Homo sapiens: one gene and its partners. The protein of the gene in region 2 interacts with the protein of the main gene of each other region in a pairwise test. Each region holds a gene or a part of one and is shown on either strand. Other genes may lie near its edges.

Evidence for each region. The genes of interacting proteins can lie anywhere in the genome.
Region 1: the proteins of CD4 (region 2) and UBL7 interact in a two-hybrid assay, tested with the Homo sapiens proteins (one large-scale study listed by BioGRID and IntAct).
Region 3: the proteins of CD4 (region 2) and ABCB1 interact in a two-hybrid assay, tested with the Homo sapiens proteins (one large-scale study listed by BioGRID and IntAct).

What each region holds. Positions count from the first base shown.
Region 1 is NC_000015.10:74,448,148-74,451,231, forward strand, and holds part of UBL7 (ubiquitin-like protein 7), read right to left. Parts: intron 2,713-3,084; coding exon 2,655-2,712; intron 1,923-2,654; coding exon 1,789-1,922; intron 1,529-1,788; coding exon 1,479-1,528; intron 1,207-1,478; coding exon 1,039-1,206; intron 454-1,038; coding exon 331-453; intron 1-330.
Region 2 is NC_000012.12:6,795,945-6,799,686, reverse strand, and holds part of CD4 (T-cell surface glycoprotein CD4 isoform 1 precursor), read right to left. Parts: intron 150-3,742; exon of another isoform or gene 64-149; intron 1-63. UniProt on the Homo sapiens protein: Integral membrane glycoprotein that plays an essential role in the immune response and serves multiple functions in responses against both external and internal offenses.
Region 3 is NC_000007.14:87,548,714-87,552,455, forward strand, and holds part of ABCB1 (ATP-dependent translocase ABCB1), read right to left. Parts: intron 2,126-3,742; coding exon 2,012-2,125; intron 1,866-2,011; coding exon 1,755-1,865; intron 1,584-1,754; coding exon 1,458-1,583; intron 1,342-1,457; coding exon 1,138-1,341; intron 806-1,137; coding exon 635-805; intron 1-634. UniProt on the Homo sapiens protein: Translocates drugs and phospholipids across the membrane. Catalyzes the flop of phospholipids from the cytoplasmic to the exoplasmic leaflet of the apical membrane.

The DNA.
Region 1 (3,084 bases), on a different chromosome or scaffold from region 2:
ACTAGCCCAGCATCTGGACTCAGGCCTAGTATACACATGCTCAGTCAATGATCACTGAATGAATGAATGAAATGGCCATGATTATCTAAGCCAGGTGGTCTAGGGAGTCAGGCCATGGTCACTAGGGGCAGGAGAAGCCTAGTGACCACTGTGTATGGTCTGAGAGTGTGCCCTTGCTAGGAACACTCTGCACCTGTCCCACTGCCATGCTCCAGCTGTTCCTAGAATGAAGCATGCCAGGTGTGAAGGACCGCCAGAGAGCAAAACAAAGGCTGGGCATCCAAAATAACAAGGAAGCCACATGGAAACCAAGACGTGGGGAAGACTGACCTGAAGGCTGGGCTGCCCAGAGGCCTGAAGGGCATGCTGTAGGGCTTGGCTGAAGAGATCATTGGTGATGGGCGTCCCTGACTGGACACCAGAGGACATTGGTGAGGTCCCTGAGGAATGACCCTAGAGACAAATTAGTGGTCAGTGCCACCCTCAGCGCCATCTCAATCTTATAGCAGATGCTCGCTGTTGTCATATCACCTCACAGCACTCCTGAGGTACCCAACTTCTGCCTCCCAACAAAGACCTGCCATAAGACAACCAAACAAAGGTAACTAGAAGCTCTCTATGTGGGCAGGAAAGGTTCCATTCTCTTCTGCACTGAGCCCCTTGTCCCAGCCTAGGACCCCAGCACTGCAGCACTGGGAGAGATGGCCTTGAAAGCTGAAGTGACTTGTCACCCAGAAATGCTTAAGCTGGTGATGTCTGCTCCCTGTCAGGGATGAGGAAGGGCATATTGTGTGCAGGAAGAGTCTTCTGAACTAATAGGGGGGACTACACGGGACCATGTTAAAATCTAGACTTCTGAGTCCTCAAGGCAAGTGAAGGGGAGGTCACTCAAGCTGCAGTAAGAAATCCCCACCAGGACTCCAGGGTTCAGCTTAAACTAGATCTAGCACCAGGGTCAGCAAAGGCAAATCTACTCTACTGCTGGGGAGCTTGTTCCTTGGGGGCCCAGCCTTGATCTTCCCGGCCCCGTCTTCATACCTGGGTGCCAGGAGTCGGTGTGTGAGAGCTGCTCTCCGGAGTGCTGGCCAGGGCCAAGGCGGTGGCCAGCTCACTCTGGGTGATGGGCCGGGGCCCAGCAGCTCCACTGTACCCCAGGGAGGCTGGGCGGGAGCTGGGAGTACTGCTAGAGGGTGTGGACCTGGTGTTCTGGAGAAAGAAGACACTCAGAATCAGGGAAGCAGTACTGTGAAACTCCCAGATGAACTCCACCCACCTCCAGCAATAGTTCTTGGGGAAACTCTTAAGTTCCCAGGTTCAGAAAGGAATCCAAAAGCAGAAATAGTATGACATGGTCTTGGCCCCCCAATGGCGTATGTCCATCTCCCAGCCTTGGGAGTGCCAGGTCCCAGGATGCAGCTCATTCCCAGCACCATCTCCCCCACATGTCAGCATGTCAGGCAGGCAGGCAGGCCACTTACTGGGTGAAAGTCATCCTCATCATCTGAGAGCCCTTCAAACAGGAAGCCACCTGGAGGAGGACGAACAGATTTCAGGAGGAAGAACAGAAAGGCACAGGCGCAGCTCCAGAATCTCAGCTCAAGTTACTCTCCAAATTCATATTTTCATCTCTCCCCTCGGAAAATTACAGGACAGATGCACTTCCTGACTCAAACCGAGAGTTCCCAAGGAACGCCCTCTGCCAACGCTATACATAGCTGCTGAGTAAAGCAAATTCCTGGGCCACTGCCGGCTCCTGAGGGGCCCACATTACACTTTTCAGGCGCTCACCTGGCATATCCCGGTATGAGCTGGAGGGCATGCTCCGGGAAGAGGAGTCAGTCCCAGGCATTGGGGCACTGCCTGCTACGGAGTGCAGAACCAGGACAATGGCATTGACGAGGGCTGGGTGAGCAGGCACCAACCTAGGATAGAAGCAGGAAGAAACCCAAGGGTGACTCCAAAAGAGCACCCTCAGCCATAACAGGAGTTCTGGGTGCCCCCTCACAACAATGCAGCCACCTGTGCCTGCTCTCAAATTCCTCAGTCTTTAGCATCTTCCACCAGGAAGCTTTATCCTCCTGCTGATCTGCCCCCAGCAACGGGTGCAAGGCCTTCAAATTCCTGGGGTCCGCTGCAGATTCTTCACCCTCTCCACAGGCAAGGCATGATGGGAAAGGTGCAGCCTGGGAGGCTCAGGGTTCTGGCCTGAGCACATGAGGAGTGTCTGGTCTAGGCACCACTACTACATCAGGCAACCCTGGACTGGTCCCTTCTCTTCCCAGGGTGGGGCTGTTTTCTTCACTTGCAAAATGAGGACATGTCCCTTTTAGCTTTGACACTTTACGGATCTGTACACCTGCTTCTCCTTTTGCCAGCTTAAAATCCTTGAAAAGCTCCCTAATTTCTACCACACGAAACCTAAACTGAGCCTGGCAGACAAGACCCTTTCCCTCAGAATCCTGCTTCCTCCCAGCACTCTTGACAAAAGCCCTGCTCTTGGGCTTTGCTCTTTCTCACCCCCTGACGTATCTAAGGGGTAGACTTGGTGACAGACTATGGATGGGCTCCCAGAGCAGACTGCAGGGTGACAATTAGGCTTCTGGCCTGAGCACGAGGAGAGAGAAGGTACCCTCTAATAGGACAGGTACACTTACGTATCAAGCATATTGGGATCAGCGAAGACAGAGAAGAGGTCCTTGTCCTGGAGAACCCCTGAAAAAGAGCAGAGCTCACCTCAAAGAAAGGAAATCAGCCAGATCCAGGAGGGAGAAGAGGCTTTGCGTCTCAGAGCAACCAGCTCAACAGGGACACAGGACAACAAGCCAATCTTCATGAGAAGTAGAGGAAGCAAAGCGCCAAGCAATACAATTCAGGTACTCCTCATCTTGGTCTAGTGAGGATGGTCCCCTGCTCTCCACCTCCCCTGCACTTTAGTCACATCACAGACTGGGTACCAAGACACCTGTCTCTTTCTCCCGTATCTCTGGGTTCTTCCCTTACTCAGGGTGTGCAGGACGCCTTCCCTGATTGCTGTGATGTGGGCTAACTGCTATCCTCATTTGGCATCCTCATACCCTTATTTAC
Region 2 (3,742 bases):
CAACATGGTGAAACCCCATCTCTACTAAAAATACAAAAATTAGCCGGGCGTGGTGGCATGCACCTGTAGTCTCAGGTGCTTAGGAAGCTGAGGCAGGAGAATCACTTGAACCAGGGAGGAGGAGGTTGCAGTGAGCCAAGATTGCACCACTGCAAAAAAAGATGCACATGTACTACAGAGAAAAGATATCCTCAAAATGACCCCGTATAGTAATTAGCTACTTAAGGTTCATGCCTACAGAGTGCATATCATGCATGTACTTAAAACTATGGGAAGGAAATGACACGTAAACACACAGAGGCCAAGAAACTAAGCAACCCACCTGTCAACCAAAAGGCACATGCTGGCTAAAGCTTAGGCAGCTTGAGGAAAAAGAGAAAAAAAACACATAGAAAAGGCCATGAAATATAGCAAAGTGATGCTGATACCATTCGCAGGTCATCCTTGATCCATAGTGGATCGTACTGTGCTTAATAAACTTTTGCTGCTTTGCTATTTGTGTGTGTCATGTCCAATTTTTTGTTTGCGGCACCAACAACTTGGGACTTCACAACATCAGCCAGTAACAAAGTAAACTTGCACACCCCTAACTGGATGCTCTGAGATACACACCACGAAATGCTATGCTCAGGCCAGGAGGGGGTTCTTTGCTGGGATGAGTGAGGAGGGGATCAGAAAAGGATGCATGGAGAAGGTGGCAAATTGGCGGGGAGACCATGGAGCCAGGCCAGGACGTGGAAATGCTTGAAGGCCGTGCTGAGATGCTGGGACTGGATCCTGGGCACTAGAGAGCCAGCAGAGGATTTTCTATAGAGAAGAAGATTATTAGATTTGCCACGTGGACCCCTGCAGCTGCTGAGTGAAAGAACTGGAGGAGGCGAGGCACCAAAGGCAGAACTGCAACCATCCTGGTCAGCAAAGGGCCTGAGCCAAGTGGCTGTAGAAATGTGTGGGACAGTTCTAAGGTGACGTTCCCAAGAATTGGGGCCTGATACAGCGTGAGAGGTATGGGGAAAAGAAAGAGAGATCAGATTGTTACTGTGTCTATGTAGAAAAAGGAAGACATAAGAAACTCCATTTTGATCTGTACTAAGAAAAATTGTTCTGCTTTGAGATGCTGTTAATCTGTAACTTTTGTCCCAACCCTGTGCTCACAAAAACATGTCCTGTATTGAATCAAGGTTTAATGGATCTAGGGCTGCGCAAGATGCACTTTTAAAAAGTTCTTGCCTCACACGTGTAATCCCAGCATTTTGGGAGGCCAAGGCGGGCGGATCATGAGGTCAGGAGATCGAGACCATCCTGGTGAACACGGTGAAACCCCATCTCTACTAAAAAAATACAAAAAAATTAGCCGGGCGTGGTGGCGGGCGCCTGTAGTCCCAGCTACTCGGGAGGCTGAGGCAGGAGAATGGCGTGAACCCGGGAGGCAGAGGTGGCAGTGAGCCGAGATCGCGCCACTGCACTCCAGCCTGGGCGACAGAGCAAGACTCTGTCTCAAAAAAAAAAAAAAAGAAAAGTTCTTGCAGGCAGTGTGCTTGGTGAAAGTCATCACCATTCTCCGTTCTCTATTAACCAGAGACACAATACACTGTGGAAGGCCGCAGGAACCCCTGCCCGAGAAAGCCTAGGTATTGTCCAGGTTTCCCCCCACTGAGACAGCCTGAGATATGGCCTCATGGGAAGGGAAAGACCTTACAGCCCCCCAGCCCGACACCCGTAAAGGGTCTGTGCTGAGGAGGATTAGTGAAGGAGGAAGGCCTCTATTCGGTTGAGATAAGAGGAAGGCATCTGTCTCCTGCTCGTCCCTGGGAATGGAATGACCCGGTGTAAAACCGATCATACATTCTATTTTGAGAGAGGAGAAAACTGCCTTATGTCTGGAGGCGAGACATCATGGCGGCAATACTGCTCTGTTACTCTTTACTACACTGAGATGTTTGTGTAAAGTTAAACATAAATCTAGCACATCCAGGCACAGCACCTTTCCTTAAACTTATTTATGACACAGAGTCTTTGCTCATATGTTTTTCTGCTGACCCTCTCCTCACCTTCACCCTATAGCCCCACCACATTCCCCTCGCGGAGATAGTAAAGATAGTGATCAATAAATACTGAGGGAACTCAGAGACCAGCACCGGTGCAGGTCCTCACTTGCTGAGCGCCGGTCCCCTGGGCCCACTTTTATTCCTCTATACTTTCTCTGTGTCTTATTTCTTTTCTCAGTCTCTTGTCTCCACCTTGCGAGAAATACCCACAGGTGTGGAGGGGCAGGCCCCCTTCAGAGAGGTCAGGGGAGAAAGAGCAGAGGGCCATTTCTCTGTCCAATATCAGACCAACCCTACAAGGCCTCTGAGTGGGCCAAGCAGAAGGCGTTGGTCCAGGGTTTGGATGAAGGAGAGTTTCCTGTGCGCTTGGCAGACAGGCGAGACTGGGGGTGGTGGGGGCAGGGCAGAGAGGCTCTGAATGGACCATGGGGAATGGACAGCTGTAGATTAGAGGAGCGATTCCCAAAGTCCTGGATCAGTAGCAGCGGCAACATGACCTGGGAACTTGTTAGAAATGCAGATCCTCGGCCCCACCCCAGACCTGCTGAATCAGAAACTGGGGGTGGGTCTAGTCATCTGGGTTTTCACAAATCTCCAGGTAACTGATCACGCTCAAGTTTGAAAACCATAAGTTAGATGGAGAGGAAAGGGGAGAGGTGTCCCCATTCTGAGGTGTGCAAAGGTGGTAGGGATGTGCGAGGAGGCTTCGGAGGAAAGAGAGGGCTCAGGGAGGTGATGGTGGAAGAAGGTATGGGAAAAGCCTTTGAGGCTTGACTGTAAATCTTTTTATTTTTAGTTTAGATCCACTCTGTCACCCAGGCCAGAGTGCAGTGGTTCAATCATAGGTCATTGCAGCCTGGAACTCCTGGGCTCAAGTGATCCTTTCATGACAACACCCAGCTAATTTGTGCAGGCAGTGATTGCAAATATTGACAGGCAGGTCGAAGAGCTGGAGCTTTGTCCTGGAGGTGAGGGGACCCACTGCTGATTTTTTGGTAAAGATGTGGCATGGTCTGTGTGGAGCTTCGGGAAGCTTGATGTGGTAACTGGGGACCAGATGACATGGGACTGGAGCAGTGATTATAGGAAAGGCACCAAGATAGCACCTCAAAGGAAGGCTGGAGCAGGGCTCAAGTGTCTTTGAATCCAGGCCTAGGATATAAAGTGGGCTCAGAGAGGTGACTGCCTGGGGAAGGTGTCACCATGGACCTGGCCCCTGCTGGTGAGACAAGATCTTGCCTCCAGACTTACTCTGTCTTCCAAGCTTGGTCCTTCTTTCCCCCAGTGGCATCTTTGCCGTTGAAGCTTGGTGACGATCTGCCTACTCTGAAGTCCCACAGCACCCCGTTGACATGCTCCTGGGTGTGTTCCACCTTCTACTTTGTGTATAGTGATTTGGTTTCTCAACTCTCCTCCTCTAGCTTGAGCCCCTTGAGGACAGAGATGACAGTCTAGCCAGCTGTGTGGCCACCACAAGCCTGGCAGCAGCTGAGACATAGAGAGAGGACTTGGTATGGCTTTGGCTAACTTAAGCCAAATTGAATTGTATGGAGGAGCGAAAGTCACTGATTTCTTCTTTCTCTATTCACCATATTAATTCTGTTTCTAAAACGGGTCACTGAAATGTATGCACACATCCAGCCCAGCCTGGATGAAGCCCAGTCGCCCCAATCCAAGCTGTTCATCCCCACGGG
Region 3 (3,742 bases), on a different chromosome or scaffold from region 2:
GATCAAAGGCACAGTGCCCGGCACACGGCAAACACTCAAATGCTATTTGGTGAATGAGTCATATGGACTCCAGAATTGCAGGACAGTCAAACTCTGTTGATAGTCAATAACCTGTCATGGCTTAGGTAGGTTTTCAGTATCACAGGCTATCTGCCCCTTTCCTGGAAATAAGAGGTTTCTTATTTCGCATAGAGTCTTCAAGTGGCATTCAACACCTGGAAAATTATATATGGACCTTCAGGTTGTATTTTTCTCTTCTTGGCAATATTACAAACTCTCAAAACCTAAATAACAGGGTTATCCACATAGTCAAGTTTTGAAGATCACAATGAAGATGAACTTTCACATGTGTCTATATTTCTATTTTTTAATTTAAAAGATTAGCAAGTGTCTTCAAATGAAAATGTATTCATCAACATTTAAAATAAGATCAGAGAAATAAATAGAAATTGAACAATAAAACAAACAAATAGAAAAAGATTTCAAAGAGGCCCAATGCTTTTATTTTAATAGCTGAAGGAATCACCTAGAAGCTATCAGAAATTTCCTTTTCTAAGACCAATATTAACAAGAATTAGTAGTAGAATGTTCTTATGCTTATAAATCAGGTTGGTTTGAACTAAGCCTCACTGACCTTATCCAGAGCCACCTGAACCACTGCTTCGCTTTCTGTGTCCAAGGCTGACGTGGCCTCATCCAGCAGGAGGATCTTGGGGTTGCGAACCAGGGCACGTGCAATGGCGATCCTCTGCTTCTGCCCACCACTCAACTGGGCCCCTCTCTCTCCAACCAGGGTGTCAAATTTCTACCACAGAAAACCCAGAATGATTTAGCATAAGGACAAGCTATCTCAGCTCATATTTTAAATTGGTAAGGAATCCTATACACAGCCCAAGTCTCACAAGTAATACAGGTCCAGTTCTTTAAATCTTATTTAACACAATAACCAACCTCAGTTTTTAAAAATGTATCTACGACCAGTTGATACTGCTAGAGCTTTCAAATCTGAAGTAATCTTACTTTCCCTTCTTAGGATTTCCCTTCTTCCGATTTATAGTAGTTTCCTAACTTCCTGCATAGTAGGCCTGCATTTTATTTTTTGCACCTCTAGAAAGGCAAAGGGCAAGGACAACTTACATGAGGCAGTTTCATGATAAAGTCATAGGCATTGGCTTCCTTGACAGCTTTCTCAATCTCATCCATGGTGACATTTTCACGGCCATAGCGAATGTTTTCAGCTATCGTGGTGGCAAACAATACAGGTTCCTGACTCACCACACCAATGATTTCCCGTAGAAACCTTACATTTATGGTCCTAATATCCTGTCCATCAACACTGACCTGGAATAAAAAGTAAGTGTGACTTTCATACATTTGTAATTGAAAGGGCAACATCAGAAAGATGTGCAATGTGACTGCTGATCACCGCAGGGTCTAGCTCGCATGGGTCATCTCACCATCCCCTCTGTGGGGTCATAGAGCCTCTGCATCAGCTGGACTGTTGTGCTCTTCCCACAGCCACTGTTTCCAACCAGGGCCACCGTCTGCCCACTCTGCACCTTCAGGTTCAGACCCTTCAAGATCTACCAGGACGAGTGAGAAAAAAACTTCAAGGCAATTCACAGACACAGGATATAGGAACTGACTGTTCACTAGGTTTAAATATACATGCACTTTTTTATAATCTCTACAAGAAAACATCAGAAACTCTTCATTCAATAGATTAATTGTTGATTAATCATTTATCACTGTACCTTAACTTCTTTTCGAGATGGGTAACTGAAGTGAACATTTCTGAATTCCAAATTTCCCTTAATATTATCTGGTTTGTGCCCACTCTTCGAATAGCTGTCAATACTTGGCTTCTAAACAGAATCAAATTTTAAGAGATTACTAGGTTACAATAACTACTTTTAGTGATATTTTGTGGAGAGCTGGATAAAGTGACAAAGAAATTGACTTAACTGGACAATCTTTTAGATAGGTGGATAGATGGCCAACTCAGACTTACATTATCAATTATCTTGAAGATTTCATAAGCTGCTCCTCTTGCATTTGCAAATGCTTCAATGCTTGGAGATGCCTGTCCAACACTAAAAGCCCCAATTAATACAGAAAAGAATACCTGAGGAATGTGAAGAAAAACCATCAGGCTACTGAGATAGTGACAGCAATTTTTTTTCATACTTCTTCTGTCTTTTTCTAACATAGGTAATTAAAATTTAAAATGGCGAGGCAACATATAAATACTAGGTGTTAAAAATATTTTAAAAGTTTGTAACTAACAGTACATTTAATTCCTTTTTTCATTTTTTTTCCTTTTTAAGAGACAGGTTCTCATTCTGTCACCCAGGATGGAGTGCAGTGGTGCAATCATAGCTCGTCATAACCTCTACCTCCTGGGCTCAAGCAATCCTCCTGCCTCAGTCTCCCAAGTAGCTAGGACTACAAGCATGCACCATCACACCTGACTAATTTTTTTTATTTTTTCTAGAGACAGGGTCTCGCTACGTGTCCCAGCCTGGTCTCCTGGCCTCAAGCAATCCTCCTGCCTCAGCCTGCAAAAGTGCTGGGATCACAGGCATGGGCCACCACACCCAGCCAAGAGTAAATTTCAAATGTGTCACCTCAAAAGGTGTCAAGTGAGGAGATAGATATGTTAATTAGCTTGCTCTGATCACTCCACATTTTGTGTGTATGTGTGTGTATACATAAACATCACATTGTATTCCGTAAGTGTAATGCAATTATGATTTGTCAATTAAAAATAGCATAAAATTTTTTTAAAAAAATTTTAAGACAAGGTCTTGCTTTGTTGCCCAGCCTGGACTGCAGTGGTGCAATCTTGGCTCACTGCAACTTCAACCTCTGGGTTCAGACAACCCTCTCACCTCAGTCTCCGAAGTAGCTGGGACTACAGACAAGTGCCACCATATCTGGCTAATTAAAAAAAAAAATTATAGAGATGAGATCTCACTATGTTGCCCATACTAAAAATATTTTGGAAATATAAATACTTTTCAATTTAGAATGCAGAATTAGTCTTACTTGCTCAATAAACAATGATTTAAATTTCACAGGGCTAGAATATTATAATAGGATATTTTTATATTTCTTCAATGTCTAGTTTTTTTTTTATTTAGATCATCAGTAAGGTAAAGTGGAAATAAATGCTAGCAGAGGAGTCAGAAGACCCAGTTCTGAATCCTAAATTAGTAATAACTAGTTATATGTTGTTAGGCCATTCTCTTAGAATCTTTGGCTTCAATTTCTTCATTGGCAAAAACAGGCAAGATTCTATCTGTTCTCCCTACCCAGCAATCATAGAGATGTTGTATCATGATAAAACAGTGTATATGAACATTTTTTGTTAATTATAAAGCACACACACCTAAGACACTGATCCTTTATCAGGTTGTCTTTTTTGCCACAAGGCCGTGTTCTCTTTAGGCCTTTTGTTTTTTTGTTTTGTGCAAATCAGTTTCTTATTGGTAAAGACTTAACTGTGTTTCTCTTTGGGGTTGATGAGAATTAATGTCATTATTCATTTTTTCTAAATCACATGGAATTATATTGCTCAATAATTTACACAGAAGGAACTTTGCTAAGTGATTCTATATTCATTATCTCAGTTAGTCCTCAAAACACGCTGAAAGTTAGGGTTCATTCCTGTCATATCATTTGGCAGAAGAGGTAGCAGAGGCTTGAAAAGTTTAGCTGGCTGCCCTAAATCATACAGCTA